Linked DNA regions of Homo sapiens: region 2 is linked to region 1. The links come from fine-mapping of genetic effects on gene expression. A gene starts in region 1. The other region holds a variant in brackets. All regions are shown on one strand. Distances are from middle to middle.

Region 1 (5,309 bases):
CCTTAGCTAAGAGAACCAGACAAACTCCATCTTGGCTCTTTCACTGGCAGCCCCTTCCTCAAGGACTTAACTTGTGCAAGCTGACTCCCAGCACATCCAAGAATGCAATTAACTGATAAGATACTGTGGCAAGCTATATCCACAGTCCCCAAGAATTCATCTGTTTGATAACGCCCAAAGCCCTGCATCTATAACCTTGTAATAGTCTTAAAGCCCCTGCATCTGGAACTGTTTACTTTCCTGTAACCATTTATCCTTTTAACTTTTTGACTACTTAACTTCTGTAAAATTGTTTTAACTAGACGACCCCCCCTTTCTAAACCAAGGTATAAAAGTTAATCAAGCCCCTTCCTCGGGGCCGAGAGAATTTTGAGCGTTAGCCGTCTCTCGGTCGCCGGCTAATAAAGGACTCTTAATTCATCTCAAAGTGTGGCGTTTTTTTAACTCGCTCGGGTACAACACTTTTACTTCCTCTTCGTGGTTCTTCTTCATGAAGAGCAGCTCCTCCTTGAGAGCTTCGATCTCTGTCTCCAGCTGCAGCCGAGTGACACTGGTGTCATCAGTGACCTCCGGAGCCCATGGATGTGGCTCTCCACAGACTGGCGCATGGCCAGCTCTGTCTCATACTTGACTCTAAAGTCATCAGCAGCAAGACCAGCATTGTCAATCTGCAGAACAATGCAGGCATTGTCCACAGTATTTGTGAAGATCTGAGTCCTCAGGCCCTCAATGGTCTTGAAGTAATGGCTCATCTCTGACCTGGGGTCCCTTCTTCTACAGGTGCTCCTGGATTTTACTCTCCAGCTTCCAGTTCTTGGCCTCCAGGCTCCTCATTCTGTCCAGGTAGGAGGCCAGGCAGTTGTTCAGGTTTTGCACGGTCTCCTTCTTGTTCTGGATGCCTCTCATTCCTGCCAGACCCCTGGCCATCCCCGCGGCCAGGCCCCCGGAACCCATGCTGCTCAGGTAGCTGGTGGAGCGGGACATGGAGATCCGGGAACCAGAGCCCCCGTGCCTGTACAGACGCTGGCTATGCTGCTGACCAGCCGGACACCGTAGCTGGGTGCCTGGACAGAACCCAGGGACCGGTAGTTGGTGGAGAAGGTGGAGCGAGTGGTGAAGCTTATGCTGTCCAGGGAGGAGAGTGAGAGGACAGGACTCAGGCTTTGCCGACGACTTTAATTTTTTTTTGAGACAAGATGTTATTGTGTTGCCCAGGCTGGAGTGTAGTGGTGCCATCACAGCTCACTGCAGCCTTGACCTCCTGAGATGGGTTCTTGTTACATTGCCCAGGTTGGTCTTGAACTCCTGGTCTCAAGCAATCCTCCTGTGTTGGCCTCCCAAAGGGCTGGGATTACAGACATGAGCCACTGCACCTTGCCAATTATTATTATTTTTTAATAGTGACAGGGTCTCACTGTGTTGCCTCAGCTTGTCTTGAACTCATGACCTCAAGTCATCCTCCTGCCTTGGCCTCCCAAACTGTTGAGATTACAGGTGTGAACCACTGTGCCCAGCCTAGTTTTTAATTTTAATGAAGTCCAGCTTTTTTTCTTTTGTTGCTTGTGCTTTTGATGTTATGGAATTTGAAATAGTTTCACCTGGGCAAGATTGATGGGTAGGGAGAAAGAAGGATCTGAGGGGAAGGGAGATGGGGATGGCTTGAGATTCTATCTCCAATTCAACCTAAGATTTCAGCAGGTAACTGCTTTATACGAGGTTTTGCAGCTTTATGTATATATGACCGATAAATTAGAACACTGAATTGTGTTTCTGAAAGGTTAACCATTGAACATTAGTGGGAAACATCAGTGTGTGAGGTTGTCTTTCTAAAAGCCAGTCCTAAATGGTACATGTAGTAATTAGAAGTTAATGTTTTCTGGTTTCAATTAAGCATTATTTGTAACAAAGGGAAAGCATACATTTTTGGGAAAGCCTGCTATGTTTCTTTTGTTACACTAGCCACACTTTTGGGAAGTCAGGATATTTGGCCCAGATCCAAACCCACTGTCTACCTGGCAGTAGCTCATCCTCACTGAAGGAATATTCCATGGGAAAGATAGCCAACCTTATGCATATCAGCCTTGGAGCAAGTCCTGCATTTGCCTGAGGTCACACAGCAAGTTAACTGGGAGTTTCAACCCAGGTCTTCTCATTTTAAATCTAAGGCTGTGTCTCTAGGCCGTGTATCCAACATAAAATCAGGACTATCATCTGTTGGGCTCTATGACTGGCACTACTACTACTCACTGTTACCATTTTTTGAGGTCTTCTACGTGCCAGGTTATTGTCCTGGCAATCTAATCCTCCCAAAGACTCGGTAAATGGTTCCATAATTATCCTCATTTTACCACTGAAGAAACTGAACTCTGGTTAAATAACTTGCCCAAGGTCACACAGACTTTAACTGTCAAGAGCTCAGACTTAACCCAGGCCTGACTCCAAAGCCTATACTCTGAATCACCAAGCGAGACCTATTTTAAAGGTGACCAGGTCGTGAGATATGATCTCAGCACGGACCCTTCTCCCGGATGACAAGAGAGCAGGTAGTTAGGCGGGTACTCCGTGTCCGCGCATACCCAGACTCCGCCCAGCGCCCGGGCAGGCCACCCCGAGCCCCTTAACTGCGCAGGCGCTCTCACTCAGAAAGGCCGCTGGGTGCGGGGAGCGCAGAGGCGGTGCAGGGCGGCTGGCTCGCCTCGGCGTGCAGTGCGCGTGCGTGGAGCTGGGAGCTAGGTCCTCGGAGTGGGCCAGAGATGGCGGCGGCCGACGGGGCTTTGCCGGAGGCGGCGGCTTTAGAGCAACCCGCGGAGCTGCCTGCCTCGGTGCGGGCGAGTATCGAGCGGAAGCGGCAGCGGGCACTGATGCTGCGCCAGGCCCGGCTGGCTGCCCGGCCCTACTCGGCGACGGCGGCTGCGGCTACTGGAGGTTTGGGCCGCGTCCGCGCTTTCCCCTTCCCTCTCCCCGCCTCCCCGGTCCCCAGACTGGCTCGTGCAAGCCGAGTCCCGGGGCCCGGGGGTCGCGTCAACTCCGCTGGCGTATGTGTGCAGATTCTCCCCGAGTCGGAGAGGGAATCCGCCCAGCCAGCCGCCTTGTCAAAGCGTCCTGTCCACGACCACAGAGCGTTCCTCTGTCGCACGCGGGCCTCCTGACCCCCAGCCCCGGGCCTTCTTCGCTGCACCTCGGCTGCTGGCAGCTTCGATTTTTCGTTTAGGGATGCAGCCGCCCCGGCCGGGAGGTGTCAGCCACTGCCAGGTGTCAGGGCCTCAGCTGTCCCGGAAAGAGGAGTTAGACTAGTTCTTGATTCTGGCCTCTATACCTAGAACTAGTTGATGGAAGAGGCAGATCTTGGTGTTTGTTAGGGAGAGCTTTCAACAATTAGAGTTGCCAAAAGTGCAATGGATTGCTTCTCATGAGCTTCCCGTTACTAGAAGCGCTCAAATAGGAACTGGAAGAACGCTTACTTATGTGGAGGAGAGGAGATTCAGCAATCAGAATCTCCTACTCAGCAATCAGAAGAAGGGACTGGATAGTAAACCTTTAAGATTCTAATCCATAGATTCCATGAGTCTATTTCTTGGACATGTGACCTCTGCGATTTCTTGGCAAAAACTAGTTGCTCAAAACGTGTTTATTGATTGAAGTAAATTAAGGACTGATCTCTCATTGCAGATTATTCTCTTATAGAATTTGCCACTGGGGTCAACTAATAATCTTTAACAGGATACTTAAAATATAGTTTGGTTGACAGGCAGTTCTTCAGGGCTGCCTCTATAACATGAAGTACATGTGTTCCTAAAGCTCTATACTGCCCTTTGTCGAGCACAGTTTAGAGCTGTATTACTCTTTTTTATCAGCCAGATGTAGTGAGAGTGAGAAGAGTCTGAGGCTGGCAGCATGTCTTGATGTTCATACTAACACCGAAACTGCAAATTCCAGCTACTTTTGATGGTACTGGTCTCATCCTTTCTACTTTATAGTGGTTACCTTTTATTCCTTTCTAAACTTGAGGCACGCTAGAGTCAGACAGAAAGTTCATTTGCACTGATTAATTCATAGTCATGATTCCATAAAGGTTTCCAGGTCTACGACATGGCTGTGGAACGGAAGGTGCAAAATAGCAAAAACTGACATTAAATTAAACTTTTGATCATGGAAAGCAAGGTAGAATGAACATTCTTTAAGATTTCTTAGGCAGTTCCCCAAGAACTGAACTGTATTGTAGCATTGTGTACAACCCACCATGTTTCAAGAGTTAGGTAAGTGCTGAGATTTTTATCTTTGTGACACTTTTATTTCATGGTACTATACAATTTTCTTTTTCTCTGTGTGCCATGACATATGCCATGAAAGACTGAAAAAACTTGCTTAGAATACGAAGAGTGGTGCTAAGGTCCTGGGGAAACAGCAAGGCATAGCAGCAGAGAGAAATCGGACTTTGTTTTGGGCATGAGTTAGCATTGTTTAGGATCCTGCTCAAGTCATGGGCTCGACTACTCCAGCTTTCCCTCTTCTTAATTCTCATTGTGTTTACTGTCATTCCATTCATTTACTTTGCTATTTATATTACATATTCTGGTAGGTTCATTCATTTCTATCCATCCAGTTGGTACTCATGGAATGTTTACTATTTGTCAGAAGTATACAAGTAAAGGCACTCAGTCTAATGAAGGGATACAGAGAGATGAACAGGCATTATAGTGTGAGAATTGCTGTTAACAGTGGAAACAAGTTTATAATCTAATCCTTTCATTTAATAGAGGGAGAAATTGAGGCCAGAGAAGGGGAGTGACTGTAGCAGAATAAAACATATTAATCTGTCTTAATAAATGGAGGTGTAACATACTGTAAAATGTACTCATCTGAATTTTACCTATGTGAATGCTTGTGTAAACACCATCGTGATCAAGACATGTACACTTCCGGAACCTTAGAAGTTTTCCTATTGCGCCTTCCTAGTCGGTGTCCACTCTCTACTCTCAGAAGTAATACTCTTCTGACCATTTGATTGGTATTACCTATTTCCAAACTTCATGTACATTGAGTCATACAGTATCTGGCTTTTTTTGCGCAACATAGTATCTGAGAGATTCACACATTTTGTTGCGTGCATTGGTAGTTTGTGCATTTAGATGTTGTATAGATTCTTTTGTATTATGCCACAATTTTTTCCATTTTCCTTTTGGTGGCTATTTGGGTTGTTTCCACTTTGGGGCTGTTACGAATGAAACCTCTGTACACATTCTTTTTTATGTATTTTAGTGGACATACACACTCACTTCTCTTGTGTATATGCCTGGAGATGGAATTGC
Region 2 (5,380 bases), 76 kb after region 1:
CTCTTCATAGGCTGCCTGAGTGCTCTCATGACATGGCATGTGATATGTGAGAGACAGAGACACTTCAAGACAGAAACCACAATCTTTTATGACCTAATCTCAGATTGCCATACCATCACTTTTTATTGATGCTATTGGTCACGTAGACTAACCTCAGTACAGTCTAGGAGAGAACTATGCAAGGGTCTAAATACCAGGAGGCAGGATCATCAGGGATCATCTTGGAGGCTGGGCACCATACCTCAGAGTTGTTACTTTTTAGTGTGTATTACCTAGCAGCACTGCCTGCACTTTACCTATTCTTTCAGGATCTTAACTACTTGCAACAGCTAGATCCTTAAGGCACAGAATTCTAGAGGCCTAAGTTAGGCCAATAACATGCATACTATATATAGCCAAAGACCATAGCCTGTGCAGCAGCATATACCCAGTCAGTTGACATTGTTTGTGAGGTTTTTTCTTTTTTTTTTTGAGACAGAGTCTCACTCTGTCACCCAGGCTAGAGTGCAGTGGTGTGATCTTGGCTCACTTCAACCTCTGCTTCCCAGGTTCAAGTGATTCTCCTGCCTCAGCCTCCCGAGTAGCTGGGATTACAGGCATGCACCACCATACCCAGCTAATTTGTATTTTTAGTAGAGACAGGGTTTCACCATGTTGGCCAGACTAGTCTTGAGCTCCTGACCTCAGGTGATCTGCTCACCTTGGCCTCCCAAGTGCTGGGATTACAGGTGTGAGCCACTGCATCCAGCCTGTTTGCAAGGTTTCTTGGAGACCATTCTACATATTCTTTAGGGAGGAGAGGTAAAGAAAGAAAATTATATTATTTTCAAAAACAAGTGGGAAGACACAGAGACATTAATGATTCCTCTACCCTATGTAATGTCAGAGCTTAAAAAAGGGTTTTGTATTAGTCTGTTTTCATGCTGATAAAGACATATCCAAGACTGGGCAATTTACAAAAGAAAGAGGTTTAATGGACTTAACAGTTCCGCATGGCAGGGGAGACCTGATGATCATGGTGGAAGGCAAGGAGGAGCAAGTCACATCTTACGTAGATGGCAGCAGGCAAAGAGAGAGAGCTTGTGCAGGGAAACTCCTGTTTTTAAAACCATCAGATCTTGTGAGACTTACTATCACAAGAACAACATGGGAAAGACTCATCCCCGTGATTCAATTACCTCCCACTGGGGTCCTCCCATGACACGTGGGAATTGTGAGAATTACAATTCAAGATGAGATTTGGGTGGGGGCACAATCAAACCATATCATTCTGCCCCTGGCCCCTCCCAAATATCATGTCCTTACATTTAAAAACCAATTCTGTCTTCCCAACAGTCTCCAAAGTCTTATTTCAGCATTAACTCAAAAGTCCACAGTCTGAAATGTCATCTGAGACAAAGCAAATCCCTTCTGCCTATGAGCCTGTTAAAAGCAAGTTAGTTACTTCCTAGATACAATGGGGGCATAGGCATTGAGTAAATACAGCCATTCCAAATGGGAGAAATTGGCCAAAACAAAGGGGCCACAGGCCCCATGCAAGTCCTAAATCCAGCAGGGCAGTCAAATTTTAAAGCTCCAAAATGATCTCCTTTGACTCCGTGTCTCACATCCAGGTCATGCTGATGCAAGAGATTGGTTCCCATGATACTGGGCAACTCCGCCTTTGTGGCTTTGCGGGTATAGCCTCCCTCCTGACTGCTTTCACAGGCTGGGGTTGAGTGTCTGCATCTTTTCGGCACACGGTGCAAGCTCTCAGTGGATCTACCATTCTGGGGTCTGGAGGACCATGGCCCTTTTCTCATAGCTCCACTAGGCAGTGCCTCAGTGGGAACTCTGTGTTGGGGCTCTGACCCCACATTTCCCTTCTGCACTGCCCTAGCAGAGGTTCTCCATGAAGGCCCTGCCCCTGCAGCAAACTTCTGCCTGGGCATCCAGGTGTTTCCATACATCCTCTGAAATCTAGGCAGAGGTTCCCAAACCCTGATTCTTGACTTCTATGCACTCACAGGCTCAACACCACCTGGAAGCTGCCAAGGCTTGAGGCTTGCACCCTCTGGAACCATGGCCTGAATTCTACATTGGCCCCTTTCGGTCACAGCTAGAGTGGCTGGGATGCAGGGCACCAAGTCCCTAGACTGCCCACAGCAGGGGGACCCTGGGTTTGGCCCATGAAACCATTTTTTCCTCCTAGACCCTCAGGCATTATCGGGGGAACCAGCCCCCAATATGTCAACGTAGGTTCTTTTCTATTTTCTCTAAGTGTTGGCCGGCCTGAGAAATAAAGAGAAAGAGTACAAAACAGAGAAATTTTACAGCTAGGTGTCCGGGGGTCGCTTCACATGTTGGTAAGTTCTGTGATGCCCACCTGAGCCACAAAACCAGCATGTTTTTATTAGGGATTTCAAAAAGGGAAGGGTGTACGAATAGGGAGTGGATCACAGAGATCACATGCTTCAAATGGCAATAAAAAAGATAACAAGGGC[A/G]GAAGGGCAGAGCAAGGTCACAAGGCCAGGGCTAAATTAGAATTACTGATGAGGTTTCATGTCCCACTGTGCACGCATTGTCTTTAATAAACATCTTAACAGGAAACAGGGTTCAAGAGCACAGAACCAGTCTGACTAGAATTCGCCAGGCTGGAATTTCCTAATCCTAGCAAGCCTGGGGGCACTGCAGGAGACCAGAGCGTATTTCATCCCTCATCTTCAACCGCATAAGGCAGACACCCCCAGAGTGTCCGTCCATAGGACCACCCGGGAATGCATTCCCTTCCCAGGGTTATTCCTTACTGGGAAAAGAATTCAGCGATATTTCTTCTACTCATTTTCTTCAATAAGAAAAATATGACTCTGTTCTGCCCGGCCCCGCAGGCAGTCAGACCTTATAGTTACCTCCCTTGTGCCCTGAACATGGCTGTTACCATGTTCTTTTTCAGGGTGCCCAGATTTCATATTGTTCAAACACACATGTTTTACAAACAGTTTGTGCAATTAACACAATCATCACAGGGTCTTGAGGCGACATACATCCTCAGCTTATGAAGATGACGGGATTAAGAGATTAAAGACAGGCATAGGAAATTATGAGAGTATTGATTGGGGAAGTGATAAATGTCCATGAAATCTTCACAATTTATGTTTAGAGATTGCAGTAAAGACAGGCATAAATTATAAAAGTATTAATTTGGGGAACTAATAAATGTCCATGAAATCTTCACAACTTATGTTCTTCTGCCACAGCTTCAGCCAGTCCCTCCGTTCAGGGTCCCTGACTTCCCACAACAAGGCATGTGATAGGAGGGGCTGTCATGAGGACCTCTGACATGCCCTGGAGACATTTTCCCCTTTGTCTTTGGGATTAACATTTGGCTCCACATTACTCATGCAAATTTCTGTAGCCAGTTTGAATTTCTCCTCAGAAAATGGGATTTCCTTTTCTATTGCATTGTCAGACTGCAAATTTTTTGAACTTTTATGTTTTGCTTCCCTTATAAAACTGAATGCCTTTAACAGCACCCAAATCACCTCTTGAATGCTTTGCTGATACCCTAAATCGTCTCTCTCAAGTTCAAAGTTCCCCAAATCTTTAGGGCAGGGGCAAAATGCCACACCAGTCTCTTTGCTAAAACATAACAAGAGTCACCTTTGCTCCAGTTCCCAAGAAGTTCCTCATCTCCATCTGAGACCACCTCAGCCTGAAGTTCATTGTCCATATCATTATCAGCATTTTGGTCAAAGCCATTCAACAAGTCTCTAGGGAGTTCCAAACTTTCCCACATCTTCTTGTCGTCTTCTCAGCCCTCCAAACTGTTCCAGCCTCTGCCTGTTACCTAGTTCCAAAATCACTTCCACCTTTTTGGGTGTCTTTTCAGCAGCACCCCACTCTACTAGTACCAATTTATTGTATTAGTTCATTTTCATGCTGCTGATAAAGACATACCCAAGACTGGGCAATTTACAAAAGAAAGAGGTTTAATGGACTTACAGTTCCACATGGCAGGGGAGGCCACACAATCATGGTTGGAAGGCAAGGAGGAGCAAGTCACATCTTACATGGATGGCAGCAGGCAAAGAGAGAAAGCTTGTACAGGAAAACTCCCAGTTTTAAAACCATCAACTCTCATGAGATTTATTCAGTCTCATGAGAACAGCATGGGAAAGACCTACCCCCATGATTCAATTAGCTCCCACTGCGTTCCTCCAATGACACGTGGGAATTGTGAGAATTACAATTCAAGATGAGATTTGGGTGGGGACACAGCCAAGCAATATCAGGTTTTTATTGCCAGATACAGTTTTCTGAGCTGAATATGTTTTAGGAAGTGTATTAACTTTTAAAACTGAATCATAGGATTAGATGTTTAGATCCTGGCCTTGAAAAACTCACCAAGTCATATTACAGAATTCCAGAGGACAAATTTCTGACTTTAAGCAATTATTGAACTATTTGGTAAATAGAAATACAGTTGATCCTTGAAAAACACGGGGTCAGGAATCCAAGGATTAGGGGCAGTTGAAAATTTGCGTATAACTTTTAACTCCCCCAAAACTATACTAATAGCCTCCTGTTGACTGAAGCCTTATCAATAATGTAAACAGTCAATGAACACATCTTTCTATGTTATGTATATTATATATTGTATACTGTATTAAAGTAAGCTAGAGAAAATGTTATTAAGAAAATCATAAGAGGCCAGGTGCAGTGACTTATTCCTATAATCCCAGCATTGTGGAGGGCCAAGGCAGGAAGATCACATTAGGCCAGGAGTTCAAGACCAGTCTGGGCAACATAGTAAGACCCTGCCCTACAAAAAAAAAAGAAAAAAAGAAAATCGTAATACATATTTACTATTCTTTATGTTAAATGGTTCGTCATAAAGGTCTTCATCTTTGTCACCTTCACATTGAGTAGGCTGAGGAGAAAGAGGGATTGGTCTTGTTGCTGCATGAGTGCTAGAGGCACAAAAAGATCTACAAGTAAGTGGACCTGCACAGTTCAAACCCGCGTTGCTCACGGGTCAACTGTAGTCCAAATTTGATCAATTTTTGTCATTACTACTCAGTGCCACATTCCCTTTTACTTATTGGAAAGGAGCAAGAAAGCAAGTTGAAGTAGAAGTCACACTTGAGCTAGTCACTAAAATTTTCTGTACCTTCATTTCCTCACCTCTAAAATTGGAATAATAATGCCTGCCTTGCCTACCTCCCAGTACTGCAGAATGAGTTATATAGGACGGTGATAGTATAAGCAGTTGTGAACTACACTGTGCTATACAGATATGGCCCTTCCATTTCATATGGCCCCACACTTCAGGGAATTTACTTACTAGTTAGAAAAACAACGAAAAAGACACATGAGGCAATTAGCAGATGATAACGGGTTA

The links. PIP is the estimated chance that this variant, and not a neighbour inherited with it, causes the effect.
Region 2: its variant is the best candidate, but not a certain one, in a credible set for the expression of XPA in tibial artery (GTEx, PIP 0.71).

What each region holds. Positions count from the first base shown.
Region 1 is chr9:97,694,737-97,700,045 of GRCh38, reverse strand. XPA (XPA, DNA damage recognition and repair factor) reads left to right here and starts at 2,706. Exons shown (of 6, transcript NM_000380.4): 1 at 2,706-2,925. The coding sequence starts at 2,754. PTCSC2 (papillary thyroid carcinoma susceptibility candidate 2) reads left to right here. Exons shown (of 11, transcript NR_147055.1): 11 at 1-421. It also overlaps the pseudogene KRT18P13. RefSeq lists a silencer at 2,545-2,644 and enhancers at 3,195-3,244, 3,255-3,314.
Region 2 is chr9:97,618,948-97,624,327 of GRCh38, reverse strand. All of the region lies in intron 3 of TSTD2 (thiosulfate sulfurtransferase like domain containing 2), which reads left to right. Among named protein-coding and RNA genes, the nearest start is that of TSTD2, 12 kb to the left of the region's middle. The variant A/G (reference allele first, on the strand shown) is at 2,484.